3 linked regions of the Homo sapiens genome follow. The protein of the gene in region 2 interacts with the protein of the main gene of each other region in a pairwise test. Each region holds a gene or a part of one and is shown on either strand. Other genes may lie near its edges.

What was found. Proteins that work in one complex are often made in the same cells at the same time.
Region 1: the proteins of NDRG1 (region 2) and TTC33 interact in binary tests that used the Homo sapiens proteins (3 or more experiments, as listed by UniProt).
Region 3: the proteins of NDRG1 (region 2) and MSRB2 interact in binary tests that used the Homo sapiens proteins (3 or more experiments, as listed by UniProt).

Annotation. Positions count from the first base shown.
Region 1 is NC_000005.10:40,711,076-40,717,961, forward strand, and holds the end of TTC33 (tetratricopeptide repeat protein 33), read right to left. Parts: intron 5,424-6,886; coding exon 5,070-5,423; 3' UTR 501-5,069; downstream 1-500.
Region 2 is NC_000008.11:133,238,209-133,245,344, reverse strand, and holds part of NDRG1 (protein NDRG1), read left to right. Parts: intron 1-954; coding exon 955-990; intron 991-3,270; coding exon 3,271-3,322; intron 3,323-6,225; coding exon 6,226-6,467; 3' UTR 6,468-7,136. UniProt on the Homo sapiens protein: Stress-responsive protein involved in hormone responses, cell growth, and differentiation. Acts as a tumor suppressor in many cell types. Necessary but not sufficient for p53/TP53-mediated caspase activation and apoptosis.
Region 3 is NC_000010.11:23,090,966-23,098,578, forward strand, and holds the start of MSRB2 (methionine-R-sulfoxide reductase B2, mitochondrial precursor), read left to right. Parts: upstream 1-4,613; 5' UTR 4,614-4,643; coding exon 4,644-4,761; intron 4,762-7,613. UniProt on the Homo sapiens protein: Methionine-sulfoxide reductase that specifically reduces methionine (R)-sulfoxide back to methionine.

The sequences.
Region 1 (6,886 bases), on a different chromosome or scaffold from region 2:
TAAAAATATGTATATATATATATAGAAAACAAACAAGCAAGCTGCAGATAGGAAGATAATATACACAATACTTACAGCTCATGAAGGACTTCTATCCAGTAGAAAGGAAAACTCTTACAACTCAATAAGAAGATGACTTAAATCAAAAATGGGCAAAATATTTGAAAAGTTACTTTCCAAAAAAGAGAAATGTCAGATAAGCCTATGAAAAGATGCTCAACATTATTAGGGAAATGCATATTAAAACCACAATGAAATACTACTACATATCCACTAAAGTGTCTAAAATTTAAAAGACTGACAATATCAATCATTGACAAGGATATGGAGAAACTGAAATTAATTTAATACATTGCTAGCAGAAATCCCAAATGGTACAGATAATTTGGAAAAGTTTGGCAGTTTCCTTTAAAGTTGTGCATAAACTGGTCATAAGACTCAGCAATTCCATCCCTAGGTATTTACATAAGAGAAATGAACACATATGTCCACACATAGAATTGTGATTTATATATATAGCAGCTTTATTCATAATAGATCAAAACTTGAAACAACCTAAATGTCCATCAATAGGTGAACAGCTAAACAAATTGTGGTATATCTATATACTAGAATACTATTCAGCAATAAAAAGGAACTTATTATTGATACACATGATAACATGGATGAATCTCAACATGGATGGGTTTCAAAAGCATCATGTTAAGCAAAAAAAAAGTCAGACACAAAAAGAGTGCATATTATATGGCCTATTTATTTCAAACTCTAGAATTCTGAAGTCAAATCTAACGTATAGCCACAGAAAGCAGAAAAGTAGTTGACTAGGGATGGCTGTTCAGGTGGAGGGGAACCAACTGCAAAAGGGCTTTAGAGAACTTTTTGGGTGATGGACACACACTATATCAGGATGGTAGTGGTGGTGAAGTGGGTGTTTACATTTGTCAAAACTCTCCCAACTATAACGTTAAAATACTTGCATTTTATTATTTCTAAGTTATACTCATTTAAGAAAGTTAATAGAGGTGAACAGAGGATATCCTAATTCATTTCACATTCTTCCCTTCCAATTCAATCTAGAGTCAACAATGTGGTCTGTCACAATTCCAACTCAGCAGACCTTTTAAATATCCTGAACAAATGTTTACCTGTTGCCTTGTAATTAACACTACTCAATTTCAATAGAATTTCCATTATTTAAAAAAAACCTCTAAAATTAGGAAAGAATTCCCACATGTGGTTTTTAATATATCTCATGCTTACTTCGAAATATAATCTGCACTAGTCTTTGTTAAAGTTTGAGGGAGTCATAAAATAATGTCCCTCTCCTCTCCTGACCTCTGAACCACTTGAGACACAGACAGATGGAGATTCAATATTTTAAGTTTACTGCTGAAAAAGGCTAGGTTAGAGGATGTACTTTAAGTTTATGCCAACAATAGCCACCAGATATTGAACTTAGAATTAGACAGACCTGCTTACTAAGGCATGGGCAGTTCTGCACAAGCACAAATCTCCCTTTGCAGAGGCAAAGAACTTTCACTGCAAGGTTCACAATGTAGCTGGCAAGAGACCACAACATCGGTTCTCTGCAGTTATGACAAATCCACAAAAGGGAAAAAAGAGGCTAGCATGCCCAGTTCTATATCTTAAACTCCCTCCTTTCCTGGTGAAGTGAGAGAAAGAGATTAGAATTCCTTGGTAAATGGATAGCCTAAGAAGCACTGTGAGAGGAAGCCATCCTTACCCGCCGCTGCCTTCTGACCAAAGTAGTTCATATATAGTGCACATTAGGGCATGATTCATGTTACAGTAGCTTTAGGGCCACACTTCTTCTTCCGAAGTAACCATATTTAATTGCAAGTGACTAAGGTAAATGACTTTAGGGATAACCTCCTTTATTTCATTTTATTTCTGTTTTATAATTTATATATTTCAATATCTTATTATTGGTAAGAAAAACTTAACTTTCTCAGTCCTAAAATTCTTTATTATCAAATACATCAGTTTAATAATAATCTCTAAGGAAGAAAAAAACACATTTAAGATATCCATTGATTTGAAGATAATTATTATGGAACTATGGTTCTTATGTCAACTCACAACTCATTTAGATATTAATACATGTATCATGAAATCATAGCTCAGAATTGCTGGTCCAGAGTCACTTTAGAATGGCTCTGATTCAAGGAAATTAAAAGAAATGATTGTTAATTTTCTTAGTGCTGGGAAAGGCAGTGAAACAAGCTTTTGAATCATTATGTAATTTTCAAACAACTAAAAGGGCTATACTGTTCAGTTATAATCTTAAAAATTCTAGCTGAGACAGAGCTTTTAAAAAATCTTTATAGTTTTACCATACGGCATCAATTCAAAAGATTGTCATACTGAAACCACTGCCATAAAATTTTGTATGTAGGCCCCAGTTGCAGTAGATCTGGCTCCTGTGAGCTATAACTTGCATGGCTTTTCAATGTTTATGTAGTGTCTGTTAATATATTTAAGATAAATACTCTATAACCAAACAGCCTGTTTTCTAGAGAATGATATATGATTCTTGTGTTATCAGGCATGGTCTGGATGTCTAGACACTCTGACTAATGAGTGTCTATGCCATACAATTCTCAAACAAGAATAATGTAAATTATAGTCAATATAACTTGAACAGTAAACAGTGTTATTTCAGAAAGTATATTAAACATCTATATCATTATCATGAACATCAATTCTCTTCAGATTCATAAAGATTTGTTATTAAAATTAACAAGCTTAGTCTATGTTTGTATATCAGTATTCACATCCTTGTAAAATAATGGGTGCATTTTTCTCTTCACGCATAGAAGAGTATGAGCTAAAATAAGCATTTTGAGGGGCCTGCAGAAATGAGCTGCCTTCCTTCTCCATAACTTACTGTTTCTTTTTCTCCTCTGTCTTATGTCTAAACTATTTTATGTCTTATATCTGGGTAAGAAAGAGACTAACTTGGCCTACCATGCCAGTACAGAGGAAACACTAGGTTCTTATAACAGGGCCTAGTGGCCACATGCATTCCATCCTGAGTCTTGCCTCTTTGGGACTTGAGCTATAGACCCTGTCAAGAAAAATCCCACTATCTCTCCTATAATACTGGAATCAGAGACTTCTTACTTTCAGATAAGGAAAGGATTACAAAAAAAGTTCTCCTTTTTTAAAATCAGAGGAAATTGAGGTTAAATATCTCCAAACTAACTCAAGTTCTTCATAGAAATAGCTAGCATTTACTGAAATAGCTGGCATTACTTCATGTGTGAGGCACCATGCAAGGTACTTTAAATATATTAAGTTCATATAAGAAAGACACTAAGTAGATCAATCTAATTTTTCAAAAGCTAACAACATAAAATAATAGGAAAATCTTCAAAATGCAGAAAAAAACTATTTATTCACAAATTACACAAAAAACAAACATCCATTACTCAAAACAATATACCAAATGTTGAGTACTCACTTCTCTAGATACCTATTTACGTTTTGAGAATGTTCTTTATTAAACAAAATAAAATAATTAACATATTTTTTGGAGCACTCTGAAACTAACCTCTCTAACCAGAGCTAATTTTCTGATGATATAACTTAAGGAAAGAATATTCTTTTCAAGGCAAGTGCTAATTTCTCCAACCCTGAAAAGAGATATGCATTCCAATAAAACAAAAGTTTTAAAAACCATCTTCATAAAAAATGTAGATCATTACTTATAAGCTCCAACAGTAGTAAGATCTTTAACATAAAGTGGGCTACTTTCATCTCTAACAAAGATAAAATTAATACACCAATAGTATCTTCCTGAGTGTCAGAAGTAACAGAACCCAACAGTTCTATATTATTGTACTACAATATATAGTATAAAAATAATAGTTCAGATTAGCAATGACAGTATTGGTTTGTGAATATGACTGTGGACTTTCAATAAAATTTTTTTTAATATAGCCTTTTCATACTCATGAGATTGTACTATAAATCACATTCCAATTTCTATGTATTTTGTGCTTAAGTTATTTATTCATTGGCACTCTAATAACAGCCCTACTTTTTTATTTTTAGAAAGATATAATTAGCTATTTAAAATTGTAATTATTTTTCATTTCACTGAGTAGTTTCAAAAAAAGTTATCTAGAAAAGTAATTCCCAGTCATCAAATGGAAAGACACAAGCAAGAAGTAAGTTGTTTCCAGGGTTTTTAAAGCTTTGTAAAATAAAGAAAAGAAAGTATTGGTTTTGACTGGGATAATATAGCAGTACAATTGTCATTAACCTATCTGTAAAAGCCATTCATTTAAAAATGCATATTTTAAAAATGACTCATTTGTGGTAAGGATTACTTACTGTAACAATTAAAAAATAAAACCATCATTCTCATATTTATCAATACTTTACACTTTTACCAAATACTGAAGGAGACAACTATCATTGTTACAACTTCAAAGTCAAAACAGAAACACAAATCAGAATTAAGAGAAACTTCAGAAAATGTTCAGAATGTACACATTTGTGTGCATTTTCAGCCAAACTTTCAAAGATTCCACATATAACCAAATGACAACTTTGAATCAAAATGAATGTCAAAAATATTCAAGCTTTCTGACAGACTTACTCTAATGAAGCAAGAAAAAGACAGCAAATATTAAGCGCAGTATATTTCTCAGAGGGAGGGAAATCACACACTTCCTTTATCATAAAACAAAAGTTGAGACAGCATTTCAGTAACATTGATCAAATTATTCACTATTCAAGAATACATTTTTCAAGTTTTGTCTTTAAAATGTATTCATTTACATATTCAGATTAAACTAAGTTTATTAATCAAAGACCATTTTACTCAGAATTTTAACCTTGAGAAATATAAATCATAACTTATCAAAGCATATTCCAAACACTATACAATAATCCTGCCATTTTAGTTTTTATATGCCTCATCTGAAAAACATATTTTACAACCAGGCGTTCTCCTATCTATCTCCAGAGTAAATGTCTCTATGTCAAAACTTCAAGAGGCAATCAAAAAGACAGATTCAAATAATCCTATGCATACTGCTTCATCGGGCTTTGATAAAAACAGAGCCATCTGGTGGTGTAGCACCATCCTCCTTTTCAGTTACAGTCTCTATGGCCCCAGAAGCAGACACAATAACCATTGTTTTATTTGCTGAAACTGTCTTCTCTTTCTCAGCAATAGCTGCACAAACAGCAACAATCTCATCACTTTCAAAGTCATAGTCTGGAATTGACTTTGGTGAAAAGTGTGTTACTTCAGCTGGTGCTTCACTTTTTTTAATCCTCTGTGCTACCTTCTGCTGCTCCTGGAGCGTTCTTGCCCAAGAGAGGTCTTCTTTCCATATTTCAGGGTTCATTGGATAGATGTGAAGGGCTACTTGAAAACTTCGAATTGCCTAGAAAATAAGGTCAGAGTTTTTTGTTTTGGTTTTAAAAATTAGTATGTTTAATACAATCCTGTGTGTTTACGTACATATATACTGTACACATACACATCCTAATGCATTATCTTAATGTACTAGAACACAAAAGATGGAAGCTACGGTGTTGCCCTAAACACTGGGGAAAAAAATTATAGAAGTGTGAAAGAAAGTGACTGACAATATGCTTATGGACTAAAAGCCATTAAAATGGGAGTACTCATAATAGGGCTAAAGATAAAGCAAATATATTCTCAGCTTCAGTAGACCAGTAAGTATGTACATTTGGGGATTTCCTGGGCTAACCCACAATCACAAAGGTACCAGGAGTGGATATCTTTGAAGTTAACAGTTTAGATCCTAACAATGTTAACATTTATTGACTGTTTACTACATTCTAGGCACTAAAGATTTACATGTATTTGGCTGGGCACGGTGGCTCATACCTGTAATCCCAGCACTTTGGGAGGCTGAGGTGGGCGGATCACCTGAGGTCAGGAGTTCAAGACCAGCCTGGCCAACACAGTGAAACCCTGTCTCTACTAAAAATACAAAAATTAGCCAGGCATGATGGCGGGTGCCTGTAATCCCAGCTACCCAGGAGGGTGAGGCAGGAGAATCGCTTGAACCCGGGAGACAGAGGTTGCAGTGAGTTGAGATCACGCCATTGCACTCCAGCCTGGGCAAAAAGAGCAAAACTCCATCTCAAAAAAAAAAAAAAAAAAGATTTACATGTATTAACTCATCTATCCTCACAATAATCATATGAAGTAGGTATGGTTATTGTTTTCAGTACTATTTTAGAGAAGCACAGAAAGAGTAGAAACCAAAGGTATCAGCTGGGAATTGGCAGAGCTGGGATGCAAATTCAGGCAGTCTGGCTTCAGAGTCCATTCTCTTATTCATTATATTATACTGCTTAGTCACAAGAACTCCACTACAGTCTGGATAAAGGTCAACCTCAGCACTACTGACATATTTGGCTGAGTAATTCTTTATTTTGGAAGGGCTGTCCTCTATAATGTAGAATATTCAGCAACATCCCTGACCTACACTCACTAAATCCAATACAGCTTCCTTTCCTAGTTGTGATAAACAAAAATGTCTCTAGACATGGCAAATGTTCTCTGGGGGTAAAACTGCCCTCCAAGTGAGAATCATTGGTCTAAATCTATTATATGTTGTTTTCTCTGAGTATACTTAGTCTCTGGATAGAAGATTCTCATGCAAACAGATTAGTTTTAAGATTGCACTTAATCGGCCAGGCACCATGGCTCACGCCTGTAATCCCAGCACTCTGGGAGGTCAAGGCAGGCGGATCACCTGAGGTCAGAAGTTCAAGACCAGCCTGGCCATGGTGAAAACCCGTCTCTACTAAAAATACAAAAAATTAGCCAGGTGTGGTGGTGCACGCCTGTAATCCCAGCTACTCGTGAGGC
Region 2 (7,136 bases):
TATGTCTATTTTGGGGACACAATTCAACCACAACCTACAGCAAAGGGTAGGTGGCCTGACTGAGGTGGGGTGGCCGATTTGATGGTAGATCCAGAAACAGAACTCACTTAGGCCTGATTCTGGAGACTTCCACAGCGTCAGTCTAATGTGCTGAGTGCCCCGCCTGGAGGAAAAATTCGGGCATCCTGCTCCCTGCGTGCTGGTTGAGCTGAGGGCTGCCCCAGGTCAGTGTCGCTTTGTGGCTAGTGTTGGGGGTCCAGACTTGAGGCGCCCTGGGCTGTAGGATGCCCACAGCCTCACCACTCCCATGAACTCCTCCAGCCCCGTTTCACCCCAGGCCACCCTCCCCGCAGCCTCCCCCTGCTCCCTTGCCGTCAGCGCTGCCCATTTCCAGGCTGGCTGCACAGTCTCACAGCCTGCAATGGCCTCTTGCGGTTCGGTGATTTCACAGGGACTTTGAACGTCCACCATTTAGGAAGGGTACTGGTCAGCTGAATCCGGCCTGAAGACCCAAATTCAACCACTTCCTTTTGAGGGAAACTTTCAAGGGAATATATGAAGAGGGTCTTGTTTATCAAACCCTTTCGGGTCAGAGAGATCCTGGCCTGGAACCTTGCGAGTCCCTCAAGCTCTTCCTGGCCCAGTTTCTGCCTGTAAAATGGGACAGCTGTACCTTCCATGGTTCTTGGGGAATGGAGTGAAATTATCTGTAGGGCCTAGCATAGTGCCTGGCACGTAGCAAGCTGCAAGTGATGGTTGCCACGGAGACACCAGCAGCCTTGCCTGGTGGGGCTGGAGTGTTCCCTACCCACGGTCCACCCTGTTCCTCCTTTGTAAGGCAGGACAAGGCAGGGCAGGGCAGCGGGCGGATGGGCATCCTTTCGGAAAAAATTCATAGAGCGCAGAGGGCCTTGGCTGTGGTGTTTGGCACTAACGAGCTTCCCTCTCTCCTAGATGGCGGACTGTGGCGGCCTCCCGCAGATCTCCCAGGTGAGTGCCATGTTGGCTTTTGCATTATACAGCTGTCGCTTCCCCCTGGGTGGAGTGCATGTGCCTCTGTGACACCTGTTCCCTCATTACCTTGCTGTGACATCGGATGACAGTTTGTGGACTGTTGGGAAAAGGTGCTATATAGGAGGACTCTGATTCCCTAGGAACCAACCCCTGTGGAGTAGGTGATACTGCGGTTCACAGAGGTTGGGGGATTTGCCAAGTAGACACACCTTGGTCATCATGGGTCAGAATCTGGGTATGTCTGCCCCAAAGACCACGGGCTTCTGCTGGAGTGAAGGGCCGCAAGGAGCTCCAGCCCAGAGCAGAGGGACATGGAGGAGATTAAGCCAAATTGTGTGTGTGTGCATGCATGTTTCTGTGTGTGCATGTGTACACGTCTGTGTGTGTGCATGTGTACACATGTCTGTGTGCATGTGTAAATGTGTGTGCACATGTACAAATAAACACATTGATCAACGTAATGTGTTTGCTACGTAACTGATCCCTTCAATTTCCCCTCCTATAAAGAATCTCACCAACCTAACAAGTAAACTTTTAATTTGTTGTCTTATAATTTTATATCCTGACAGTTTTGTGTTCCATCTTAAAATGAAATAGAGTTTTTTGTCATCTTTTTTATCCAAAACCTGCCCTGCCTCCTTTCTTCCTCCTTTTTTTCTTTCTCTACTTAAAATGAGAACAGATGTAACCCTGGTCATAATTAAAAGAATTTTCAGAGCTTCAGAGGAGTGCAACGAGCACAGGCTTCGAGGACACCAGCACAGGGGGGAGCAATTCCTGTGTGACACTGTCGTCCTCATGCCGTTGCAGGTTGGGTGTATGTTTACACAGGGTTTTCCCATCCTTGATTAAATTAGGTCCTTGCAATAGTCCTCAGAGGTGGGAAGAGCAAGCATTTTATCCCAGTGTCACAGAAGAGGAAACTGAGGCCAAAAGTTGAGAGAGATTGCCCATGATTACTGGAGCTAAAATTGGGCCCAAGTGTTCTCATTCCCAAGCGTGTATTCTTGGTTCTCTCCACCATCTCGAACACAGGCGTCCCTGTTCCCTGCAGCCCTGACCTGCTTCTCTTGTCTCTTTCTTCCACTGTCACACAAATTCCAGAGGGCAATTTGAGCATAGCCGCTCTTTTAAATGTCATTTGGCTCTTTGTGGAATCCTGGCAGGAGTTAGTGGAGAGCAGGGAGGGGGGTCAGCCCAGCCTCTACCAGTGCCCTCTCACTGCCTCAGGAGAATAGGACCCAGGGCACTGGATAGAACAGTTGGGATTAACTGAAGAACAGATACGCCTTGCACGTATGCCCTTGATATTTGAGCATTCACCTCCAAGTTTACATTAAATGAACTGAGAGAACTGGTAGAACTGGATGTGGTCTCAGCATTCCATACGCATTTCACTTAAAGTAGCCCAGTTAGTTGTTAATTAATTGGTTTGTTTACCCATCCAACGAACCATCCAACCATCATCCATTCATTCTTCTTCATATCCTTTCTTCCTTTTATTTGTCCTTCTTTTGTTCATATTTCTCTTTTTTTCTTCCTTTTGTCCATCAATTCTTTTTTTAATCCATCTTTCCTTCCTTCCTTCCTTCTCTTCCTTTCTTTCTTTTTTCCTTCCTTCTTTCCATCCATCCTTTTCTTTCCACCCATCCATCTATCCATCATCCCTTCTTTCAGCCAGCCTGCTATTGAGGCTGACAGTGATTTGCCTCAAGAACAAGTGTTTTAGGTTTGGAGAGCCCTGGGTTAATGTACAGGACCCACCACTTACTTGTTGTGGGACCCTGAGTGGATTTACCTGTCCAAATCTGTTCAGCTATGAAATGTATCTAAGGTAGCACTGACCTCGTGAGGGGTTGTCAGGAGTAAATGAATGAACGCAGCAAAGCCCCTTGCATTGGGAGTGGCTCATGATGCCGATGCAGTTATGTTCCACTTGCTGGGTTAGACATGTCCCTTTGTGGATGGTAATCTCCTCAGAAACACACAGAAATAGCTGTGATACTCTGCCCTGTATTACAGGTGAGGAAACTGGCTCAGACAGGTCATGTAACTTGTCCAAGTTCCACAGCTGTGGGGTGAATTTCCCATCATTGTCCCATACTCTTACTTTTGTGTTTTGTCCTGTCAACACGTGATGGCTTTTGTCTTGAGCCAAACTCTCAAATGAAGGTGACCACAGGCACAGCCCCCCATGGCCTCGGGTGATCTGGCTCCCCAGCAACTGACTGCATTTTCTCTCCTTGTCTCTCGCAGCCGGCCAAGCTCGCTGAGGCCTTCAAGTACTTCGTGCAGGGCATGGGATACAGTGAGTATGGCATTCCCCGTGTGCAGTGGGTCGGGGCATGTGTCGGAATTGGAAGTGCTCTGTCCTGAGCCAGGTTTGGATGAGCAATTCTGTGTCCCCCTGGCCAGCTTCAGCTTTCTGGGAGGAAACAGTTAGGTGTGTGGAGGGCATGTGGCAGCCTGGAGGATCTAGCCTCTCATTTATCAGTGAGGCTCATTTTTCCTCCTTTGTTGAATAGAAGTTGTTTCACACCAGGGATTTTGGGGGGTTTAGATGAGGACTGTCCCTTTAAGCACCAAGACAATGACCAACAGTGAAACAATAACATTTTTAAAAATTTTGATCACAAGTTTTAAGAGACCACTAGCTACAGTGATGATGAAGATGGTGTCGATGATGATGAAAGATTACTAACACATTATTTTATCTCACTGAACCATCACAGTACTCCTTTGACATATTCTTAGCCCATCTTATCAGTGATGAAGCTGAGGCTTCGGGGTTGTAAGCAGGGAGCAGAGGGCGGATCTGTGGAAATTCTTTGAAGACTGTGAAGCTCTGTGGAAGTGGCTAACAAAGTTGCTTACATTCAAGGTGGAGCATGCCATAGTCAAGTCATGAGCTTTGGGAAGTGGAGGATACATTGGAAGCATCATTCAGGAACTCACTCGTTCTTATTTTGCAGTTATAGTTTGTTAGACACATACAGCCTTTTTTCCAGAAGTGCTGTCCCAGGACTAGGACAGACCCTGGCGAGTTGTAACTCGGCTGAACAGCAGCCACACTCAGTGCTGTGGGCCTGTCAGCCATGGTCCGGCCCTGACATGACTAGTGGCTCTTCTGACCCTACTGCTTGGAACTATAATTCGTGTGTCCTCCCTTACTAGGAAGTTATTGAACTTCTGATCCCTTTTATCATTTCCTTAAACTGTTTGCCCATGTATAGTAAGAGTATGCTTGGTAAGCTGACTGCAGTCCTAGCATTGGCCTTAGCCATGATTAGCTCTAGCAAGGCGAGGCTGGCAGGTTTGATTTCCATGCCTCAGGCTCAGGCAGGATCCACATCCCCAGGTGCCCTCTTCCAACAGAAGCTATCTGCTAGTGGGGCTCCTGCCTTTCTAGCCTGCTTTCCCCGACGGAAGTTGCAGGCAAAGGTTGTCATTGGAGACAGCCATGGAGACAGCCGCGGGGCAGTCCTGCTTTACCCTGCACGGTGTGAATTGTGGCTCCCATTTGTCTTGGTCCCGCCAGGGTTTGGATTTCTGCTTTGAGAGTGTGTTCTGGAGAGAAAGGAAGTGAATGCTAGACCTCATCTTTCTCCCCAAATCGGCTTCTATTACCAGAAAGCTGAAGCCTCCTGCAGGTCTTGGGGGGAAAATAACAGGAAGAGCTATGGTCTCAAAGGCATCAGCCAAAGAGAAGGAAAGGAACCGGTCACTGGCCTTCTGCACACCACGGGGTGCTGGCTTGATGAACCCTTTGCACACCTGGCATCAGTGCTCACTGTACGCTTCTCATCCTGCTCAGTAGACATCCCAGATTTGTGGGTGAGAAGTAGGGGCTCAGAGAAATATGTGAGCTGCGGATGTGGCATTGACCCCAATTCTTTCTGAATTCAAAACTAGCTCTTTAAGACAATTCAGCAAGGATTAATTCTGTTTGGGAGTGCCTGACATCAAAAGCCCCTCCCTGTGCCTATCAAGGAGATAACATAAGCCCTGCATGCTTGGTGTGGATCAACTGCCCCTGTTTCTGATGTCTGACTCAGTGTGGCCTCCTAGCCATGATGCTTCAGTTGGGTGGAGTACTAGTTTCCTAAAGCTGCCGTAACAAATCTCCACAAACTGGGTGGCTGAAAACAATAGAAATCCATTCTCTCAAAGTTCAGGAGGCCTAAAGTCCAAAATCAAGGTGTGGGCAGGGCCTTGCTCCCTCCAACGCTGCTGTGGAAGAACCTTCCATGCCTCTTCCTGGCTTCTGGTGGCCCCAGCAATCCTTGGCTTTATGTGGCTTGTGGCTGCATCACTCCAATCTCAGCCTCTGTCTTTGCGTGGACTTCTCCCCTGCATATCCCTGTGTGCTGTTTCTATAAGGACATCACAGTCATTGGGTTTAGGGTTCCCTCTCAACCCAGGATGATTTCATCTCAAGATCCTTAACTAATTACATATGCAAAGACCCTATTTCCAAATAAGGTTCCCTTCTGAAGTTTCAGGTAGGTGTGAATCTTCCGGGACACTGTCCCACCCGGTACAGGTGGGCAGGATTGTTCCTCCTCATTCCACCCCATCAGCACGTGCTACCCCATCAGCATGTGCCACTTGCACGTGCCATGTGCAAGAGCATTTGAGGTCTCAGAGAAGATCCCAAAGAATAGACAGCGCCCTTGTTAGCACCTGGGCTGACAGGCTTCTTTGGGAGAGATGACAACGAATAGCCATGCCGGGAACTTGCCGTGTGGCCCCTCTCCCTTTCCCCACCTGTGATGTGCAGGGCCACTGACCCCAGGTGTCCTCCCTGCTCCAGTGATCATGGACAGCATGGGGTCATGGGCGTACACACAGGTGCTGATACCAGGGGTCAGTATTTAACATACTTGCTTTACAGATGGGAACAGGGAGGCTCAGGGGGACACTCTCAAAATTACACAGCTTTTAACAGGTGGCAGAATTGGGGTTCAGACCCAGATCTGGGTTCAAGTCACTCATGGTGTGATTGCGGCAGTTCCTTCCCGCATCTGGGCCTTGCCATCTCTCTCTCCGAGTGGACATGGAGAGGACGGGGGCCCAGCAGCTGGATGGCTGCAGGGATCAAGTCTTCTCTGGGGCTGGCACGTAGAAGAGCATGTGGCTGGTGGACGGGCATGCCTGGCTCCTCACCTGGCAGTCTCCTGCCCTCTAACCGGCTGTCTCTTGTTCCCCTAGTGCCCTCGGCTAGCATGACCCGCCTGATGCGGTCCCGCACAGCCTCTGGTTCCAGCGTCACTTCTCTGGATGGCACCCGCAGCCGCTCCCACACCAGCGAGGGCACCCGAAGCCGCTCCCACACCAGCGAGGGCACCCGCAGCCGCTCGCACACCAGCGAGGGGGCCCACCTGGACATCACCCCCAACTCGGGTGCTGCTGGGAACAGCGCCGGGCCCAAGTCCATGGAGGTCTCCTGCTAGGCGGCCTGCCCAGCTGCCGCCCCCGGACTCTGATCTCTGTAGTGGCCCCCTCCTCCCCGGCCCCTTTTCGCCCCCTGCCTGCCATACTGCGCCTAACTCGGTATTAATCCAAAGCTTATTTTGTAAGAGTGAGCTCTGGTGGAGACAAATGAGGTCTATTACGTGGGTGCCCTCTCCAAAGGCGGGGTGGCGGTGGACCAAAGGAAGGAAGCAAGCATCTCCGCATCGCATCCTCTTCCATTAACCAGTGGCCGGTTGCCACTCTCCTCCCCTCCCTCAGAGACACCAAACTGCCAAAAACAAGACGCGTAGCAGCACACACTTCACAAAGCCAAGCCTAGGCCGCCCTGAGCATCCTGGTTCAAACGGGTGCCTGGTCAGAAGGCCAGCCGCCCACTTCCCGTTTCCTCTTTAACTGAGGAGAAGCTGATCCAGTTTCCGGAAACAAAATCCTTTTCTCATTTGGGGAGGGGGGTAATAGTGACATGCAGGCACCTCTTTTAAACAGGCAAAACAGGAAGGGGGAAAAGGTGGGATTCATGTCGAGGCTAGAGGCATTTGGAACAACAAATCTACGTAGTTAACTTGAAGAAACCGATTTTTAAAGTTGGTGCATCTAGAAAGCTTTGAATGCAGAAGCAAACAAGCTTGATTTTTCTAGCATCCTCT
Region 3 (7,613 bases), on a different chromosome or scaffold from region 2:
AACCATTTATTTAAGTCTTCATTCACTGCCTTTAGAGCTTTAAAACTATATTTTATATATATTAGATGTTCCAGTTGGTTAGTTTCTAGGAATTCTCTAGATTGAGGTAAAACAAAAATGAGTATCGACATTGAACTTTGGGCAGATGGAAGCAGATAAAGTATTTTCAGTGCAGATTAATTGTGTAAAGCTTATTCCAGTCCCTCATTCTTTCCCAAATGGTTTTTGGTAGGGAAAAGCAAATTGGCTTTTGCACTTATCTCCCATTTTTTGGTCATTCTATCCTATCTTTTAGGGATTTTATTATCAAATTTATAGTTTGCAGAGAAGTGTGTTGGATATACAAAGAGTCAAAGTTATAGAATTTTGCCTTTCCTGAAGATTCTCACAATCAAATTCAGGACATCAGATATACACTGTGTCAACTTCATGAAACAGAAAATCCCAGTAACAGTGATTTAAACAAAATATAGATTTATTGGTCTCTCATGTAATTGGAAATCTGAAGGCAGGCAATCCAAGACTAGCATATTGACTCCACACTGTCTTCAGAATCCTGGGCTCCTTCATGTCTTCTACTTCTTTAAAATCAAGATGTGGGTCTCATCTTCATGTATACCAGAAGATTGCCAGTGCTCCAGCCATCATGACTAATTTCCAAGCAGAAACAAAAGACAGAGCAAAAGTCCAGTGCTGAGCCAGCTCCTCTTTAACTAGTTTTCCTGGTAGCTCCCAGTGATGTCTGCTCCTATCATTGCCCATAACAGCATCATATGATTGCCACCAACTACAAGGGAGCTGACAGATGTAACATTTTAGCTAGGCATATTGCTACTCTTAATAAAATCAAAGATCTGTTTGTAAGTAGAGAGAGTGGATATCGGCCAGGCAAATGATAGTCTCTACCACTCAGTGTACAAAGTAAAAGGGAAAACATAAAGTAGAGTTTTGTTCAGGCTAAGACCATGTGTCCAAGAATGTGAGGTTAATGCATGGCCTTGATGGTTAAGTTGGATTCAGATAAATGGTGGTGAGAAGAGGGGACATTTTAAGACCAGTAAGGGCTTGATCACAGATGAGGTAAAGGTCCTCCTAGCAGGTGTAAAGGAGAATGGTGGTAGGGAGGGAGGGACTTCCTCTGTGCTTAGAATGTCTTTCTGGGAGTGTGAGGATATGTAGAAATGCAAGGATAGATTGGTTATCAGCTCTGTTTACCAATTACCGTTGTCCTCATTAAATCTTCAATAACAACTAACGTTTATTAAAACCAAGTATGTACCAAAGGGTTTGCTAGGTGTTTTAACGTATGTTGTATCTAATCCTTACAATAACCCCATTTTGGGGATAAGAAAACTGATCTGTCACAGGTTGAATACTTGATCAAGCTCATGCGTCTTTTAAATTTAAGATATTCTGACTTGAATGTGTTTTACACCAGACTCCATGATTTTTTTCCCACAATGTCACAATGTTAAGTTAATTTATTAACTTTGCTTGGGATTGGGGGTGAAGGTGGGTGAGTTAAACCGGTATTCCTTGATATTTTCTAAATTCTAAACTTTAGGGGAACTTTACAAACTCTTCAACTAACTAGCAGTGTGATCATAGACAAGGTACTTATCCTCTCTGGATTTGAATTTGTTTACTTATTACTCAGATACAAAACCAGACAGATACTATAAGAGAGGAAGCTTTCAGTCCAACATCCTTCATCAACACAGACACAAAAATTCTAAAAAAATGTAATCCATGATACATAGAACATAATCCAACAATACATGAAACAAATAATAAAACTGACAAAGCAGGCTTTATTGAAGAAATACTAAGTTGGTTTAACGTTTGAAAATCAAGTAACAAACTACAAAAAGAAAATAGGAAAAAGGTATGATTATATCAGTAGCTGCAGAAAAGCATTTGACAAAAATCCAACATCCCTTCCTGATAAAAACTCTCAGTAGACTACAAATAGAAATTTCCTTAATCTGATAGAAAATTTATGAAAAACTTATAGCTAATATCATACTTAATGGTAAAAGGCTGAATACTTTTCCTCTAAGATCAGGAACAAGACAAGGATGTTCACTCTCAACATTTCTATTCAACACTGCGCAGGCTCTAACCAGTGCAATAAGGCAAGAAAAAGAAATCAAAGACATCTGTATTAAAAAGAAAGAGTAAAACTCTTTCTACACAGATGACATGATTTTTCTATGTAGAAAATCTGATAAAATCCATAAAATGTTACTAGAACTAAGAAATGAGTTTAGAAAGATTACAGAATACAAGATCAATATACAAAATCTACATACTAGCAATCAGAAATTGAAATTGATAAAACAATACCACAGCATCAAAAATATGAAATGCTTTAGGATGAATCTATCAAAAGATGTGCAAAACCTATACAGTGAAAACTACAAAACACTACTAGTAGGTGTTAAGGAAGACCTAAATAAATAGATAGGCATATCTTTATTCATGGGTCAAAAGATTCAATATTGTTATGATATTAATTTCCCCCAAACTTATGGATAGAATCAATGCAATCCCAATCAAAACTTAAGTAAGATCATGTGTAGAAATTGACAGACTGAATCTAAAATTTATGTTGAAATACAAAAGACCTAAAATAGCCCAAACAACCTTAAAAAAGAACAGAGGTACAGTACCAATGCTAGCTGGTTGCAAGTCCAGTCATCAGGATATTGTAATATTGATGTAAAAATAGACAAATTAATTAATGGGACAAAATAGGAAGTCCAGAAATAGACACAACACATTGATAGGAAACTGATTTTTGACAGATTCAAAAACAGTTCAGTGGAGAAAGAGTAGTCTTTTAAAAATTGGTGCTAGGAGCCAGGCCTGGTGGCTCACGCCTGTAATCCCAGCACTTTGGGAGGCCGAGGCAGGCAGATTACCTGAGATCAGGAGTTCAAGACCAGACTGGCCAACATGGTGAAACCCCGTCTCTACTAAAAATACAAAAATTAGCCAGACGTGGTGGCACACGCCTGTAATCCCAGCTACTCAGGAGGCTGAGGCAGAAGAATTGCTTGAGCCTGGAAGATGGAAGTTGCAGTGAGCCAAGATCGTGCCACTGCACTCCAGCCTGGCCGACAGAGACTCTGTCTCAATCAATCAATCAATCAATCAATAAAAATGGTGCTGGAACAACTGGATATAGATATGCAAAAAACAAAACAGATAAACAAAACAAAACAAAAATTTTGGCCATATATAAAAATTCTAAATCGGTCAGAGACCTAAATGTAAAACCTAGAACTATAAAAATTTTAGAACAAAACATAGGAGAGAATCTTTGTGATCTTGGATTAGGCAAAGATTTCTTAAATATGATACCAAAAAAAGAACAATCCATTAACAAATTGATAAATTGGGCTTCATCAAAATTAAAAACTGCTCTTCCCAAGACAATATTAGGAGACAGAAAAGACAAACAAGAGACTGGGAAAAAAAATCTTTGTAAAGCATATGTTTGATAAAAGATTTGCATCCAAAATATATAAAGTGTTCTAAGCTCAATAATGAAACAACTCAACATTAAATGGGCAAAAGATCTGAACGGACACTTCACCAAGGAAAATACACTCGCTGCAAATACGCACATGAAAAGATGCTTAACATCATTAACGATTAGAGAATGCATAATAAAGCCACAATGAGCTACCACTACACAGAACCGGAACATCTACAGTTAAAATCTCTGGACTTTCAAGTGTTGGCAAGGATGAAGAACAACTGGAACTCGCATAGACTGCTAGTGGGAAGGTAAAGAAAAAAACCACTTGGGAAAACAGTATAGTAGTTTCTTAAATGGTTACACCTACCTTACGACCTGGGCATTCCACTTCCAGGTATTTACCCCAGAGAGGAAAAACCGTATATGTCTGTACAAAGATTTGCACAGGGATGTTCCTAGCAGCTGTAGTTCTAATCAGGAAAAATTGAAAGCAGGCTAAATCAAGTGCTGACTAAACACACGGTGGTATATCCATAAATGGAATACTGCTCAGGAAGCAATGAATGATTGTTCCATGCAAAAACACGCAGGCATGTCAAAGTAACTATGTTGAGTGAAAGAAGCCAGACAAAATCAAGTACATATGGGATGATTCCATTTATGGACGACTCTAGAAAATGCAAACTAAAACAGATCAGTGTTTGGGCTGCGGATGAGTGGAGTTGGGATAGGTGGAGGGGGGCAGGGCGAGGGAGGAGCAGGAGTGGGAGGAGCTGGGAGATGCAGAGATGGGTTGGGGAGGGTCTCATGGAAGGGAAGGGAGAGAGGAAGGGGGAGAGGAAGGGGGAGGAAAGGCAAGGGGAAAAGGAGAGGAAGAGGGAGGGGGAGAGAGAGGCAGAGTGGGAGGAAAGAGGGGCGGGGACCTGGGAGGGCCCAGGGCACATAGTGGGAGGAGCAGGTGGGAAGGAGGGAAGGAGGGAGGGGCAGGGGAGGGAGAAGAGGGGGAGGGAGACGAGGGGACTGGCGGTGTGGGCGGAGCGTGGGGAGGGAGGCCGACTAGCGCAGGCGGACGGGAGAGAATGGGGGAGGGGTGGGATGGGAGCAGGGGCAGAGACGGGCAGAGGGCAGAGGGCGGAGCGGCGCCGGAGCGGGCGTCATGGCGCGGCTCCTCTGGTTGCTCCGGGGCCTGACCCTCGGAACTGCGCCTCGGCGGGCGGTGCGGGGCCAAGCGGGCGGCGGCGGGCCCGGCACCGGGCCGGGACTGGGGGAGGCAGGTAGGACGCGGGTCCCGCAGGCCCCGCCGCCGCCTACGGCTTTCGGCTTCATTTCACCGGCTGCACCCGGGAGCCTAGGGCCGGTCCAGGCCGGGCGCTGCCCTCCTACTAAGCCCTCCTCGGCGCGCCCCTCCCCCCCCCCAGCCCGAGGATCTGGGACAGTGGATTGTAAACTTGGTGGCGGCAGGGTGGGGACTGACCCCTGTGAGAATCCGAGGAAATGAACAAATGATCCCCCTAAATGTGCGCATAATTTTTTTTTTCTTGGCTCGGGGAGTGGGGGCATAAGTGGGGCTCGGGGGCCTCTGACCCCTATCGGGGACTCCAGGCGAAGGCCCGGGGCCTGGGCTGTAGCAGCCCGGCCCGCGCGCCCCTGCGAAGGCCCCTAGTATTTTGCATTGCAGCCCTCTTCGTAGTTCCGCGGGCTTCCTTCCAGCATCTGAGAAGCAGGCAGTTCAGACTTGGGGTTCCTGTGAGTGTTTCCTGCCCTGCTGACTTCCCATAAATGTGTCTAAGAGCCAGGGAGACTGGGTTGATCATTTGTTCCTTCTTTAAGGTGACAGCCATTGTTAATGACTGAGACAGAGACCAGGGCGAGCCTGTGTGTGTGTGTCTCTCTCTCTCTCTGTGTGTGTGTGTGTGTGTGTTTCTGCTAAATACTTTTGGATCCTCTCTTGGATCTGGGTACCTGCACATTTCACCAAGCAGGAAGGAGTCACCTCGGGAGACCTGTGCCAGCTACCCCTGTATTTCAGTTCTATTTCAGGGTAACTTAGTGCCCCAGGGGATTGGCTTCCTGGGCGGTTGCCAGACTGACCCACTCTGAATCCAATTTTATATGTGTTCATTGAAGACATTCAGAGATACCCAACTGATGAAAATGTACCAACTCATTCTGAGCTCTTTTTAGCCCCTGAAGTTTTCGAAATGCAATATTGAAAGAATACGTAACTAAATAAAAGCGTTGGCGTTGTGGAATGTTAGCTCATCCAACTTGACTTCCAGCTATGGCCTTTCTAATCACTGGTGTCTCTAGTCAGTCTGATGACATTTGCTGTGAGCCTACTGTGTGCCAAGCATTGTATTGCTGAGAACCACAGGTGATAGAAACAGGTCACAGTTACCGACGAGCTCTCTATAACCCCTTGAAAAAGGATGGTGGTTTTAGCGGTAACTACTTCATGGCTGTAATTGCTGCTGTCAGAAGCAGCCTAATGAATTGCCCTGGGATCTGAAGTTCTCCAGCAACAATAAAATTTGGCCAGCCACCAGTAGGTAACAGGAGCTGTGTACCTTATCAGACACCCCTCCTGGGAATCTATTCGAAGGAAATAGTTCAAAAGAAGAACAAAGAGATATATGCAAAGATGCTTTAAGCACTAGTCTCTTACAAAATGGAAACTGGCTGTAACCCAAATCAGTTAAGAAATACTTACGTAAATCATGAAAATTCAATCCAACAAACTGTTAGGCAGCCATTAAAAATGATAAACGGAGTATTTCTGTGGTGAAGGGCTTGGGTATGAATAGATGCAGATTTTGAGTCTTGGCTCTCGGTTACTTCCTGGCTCTGTGTCTGAGCTCAGGCTGCTATTGCAAAACACCGTGGACTGGGTGGCTTCAACAACATTTTCTCACAGTTCTGGAGGCTGGGAAGTCCAAGATCAAGGTGGGAACAGATTTGGTTCCTGATGCAGACCTGCTTCCTGGCTTGCAGTTGACTGCCTTCTCACTCTGCCTTCAGGTGACTGTCTCAGGAAGGACCACTAATCCCTCAAGAGAGCCTCACCTTTATGATCTAATCTAAAACTAATAACCTCCCAAGCCCCACCTCCACATTCCATCTCATTGGGAGTTAGGGCTTTAGCATATGGGAGTGGGGAGAGGAGCAGGGAGAACATATAATATTCAGTTTGTAACAATGTCTTTGGACATGTTTCTTGAATTTGGAAAGTTTAAACTTCAGATTTTTTTTCCTTCTGTCAAATAAGGATAATGATAATGGTAGGGTTGTTGTAAAGAATAACTTTTTAATTAAATATTTTGTTACAATGCTTGACACTTAGGCACACAATAAATGTTAGTTATGATTACATAAATAAGTGGAAAGGACAAAAATGTAGCTACATTTAACTTACATCATGGGCTTCGGGAGTGTTGAGAGAGAGGGAGACATTGGGAGGGGGGAAATGAGAAGATATTGAAATGACAGTATTTTTTTCCAGTGCTGCAATTTCTCATATGCTTAGAGTGATTTTTTTTAATCCAGATTGACAAAGAGCAAACTGAAAAAGGAAAGTAAGAAATATTCTGGAGCAAAAAATCTGTTGCTTCAGGAAAATATTCTTTCTAGAGATGACTATGCTAGGAAACTGTCCTGGGCATAGGGTTAAAATAGTCCAGGCACTGGTGGGAGAGACTAGTTCTGCAGATCAGAATGGGCTGGGGATTCTTTTAATACCAGTTTCTAAAGAGTTCCATTAGATTCAACACATTATTTATCAAAATGGAGTGGGCTTATGTGTGACAATTGGCAGTATAGCAACTGTGGCCAGGAAGGTTAGCAAAACCCGAAGGAGGCACCCAGTAGGTGACCATAGGACCAAGAGTGGATTTCCTTAGGGATGAAAAAATCGAGGCCCACCCCGTAGAACTTCTGACCAACAAAATATATGGCCTGTGCAAATCACAGCACACAGAGAGAAGGGAACTCCAAGGAATTTGAGTTTATTAAGGCATAATTCAAAGTAAAGCTGTGTAGTTATCTCATGCAATAGCAGCAACCGATAAATGTTTTCATAGTGAAGATAGCAAGAGAATGTAGAGGGAATCTGGAAAATGTGTAGCCCCCA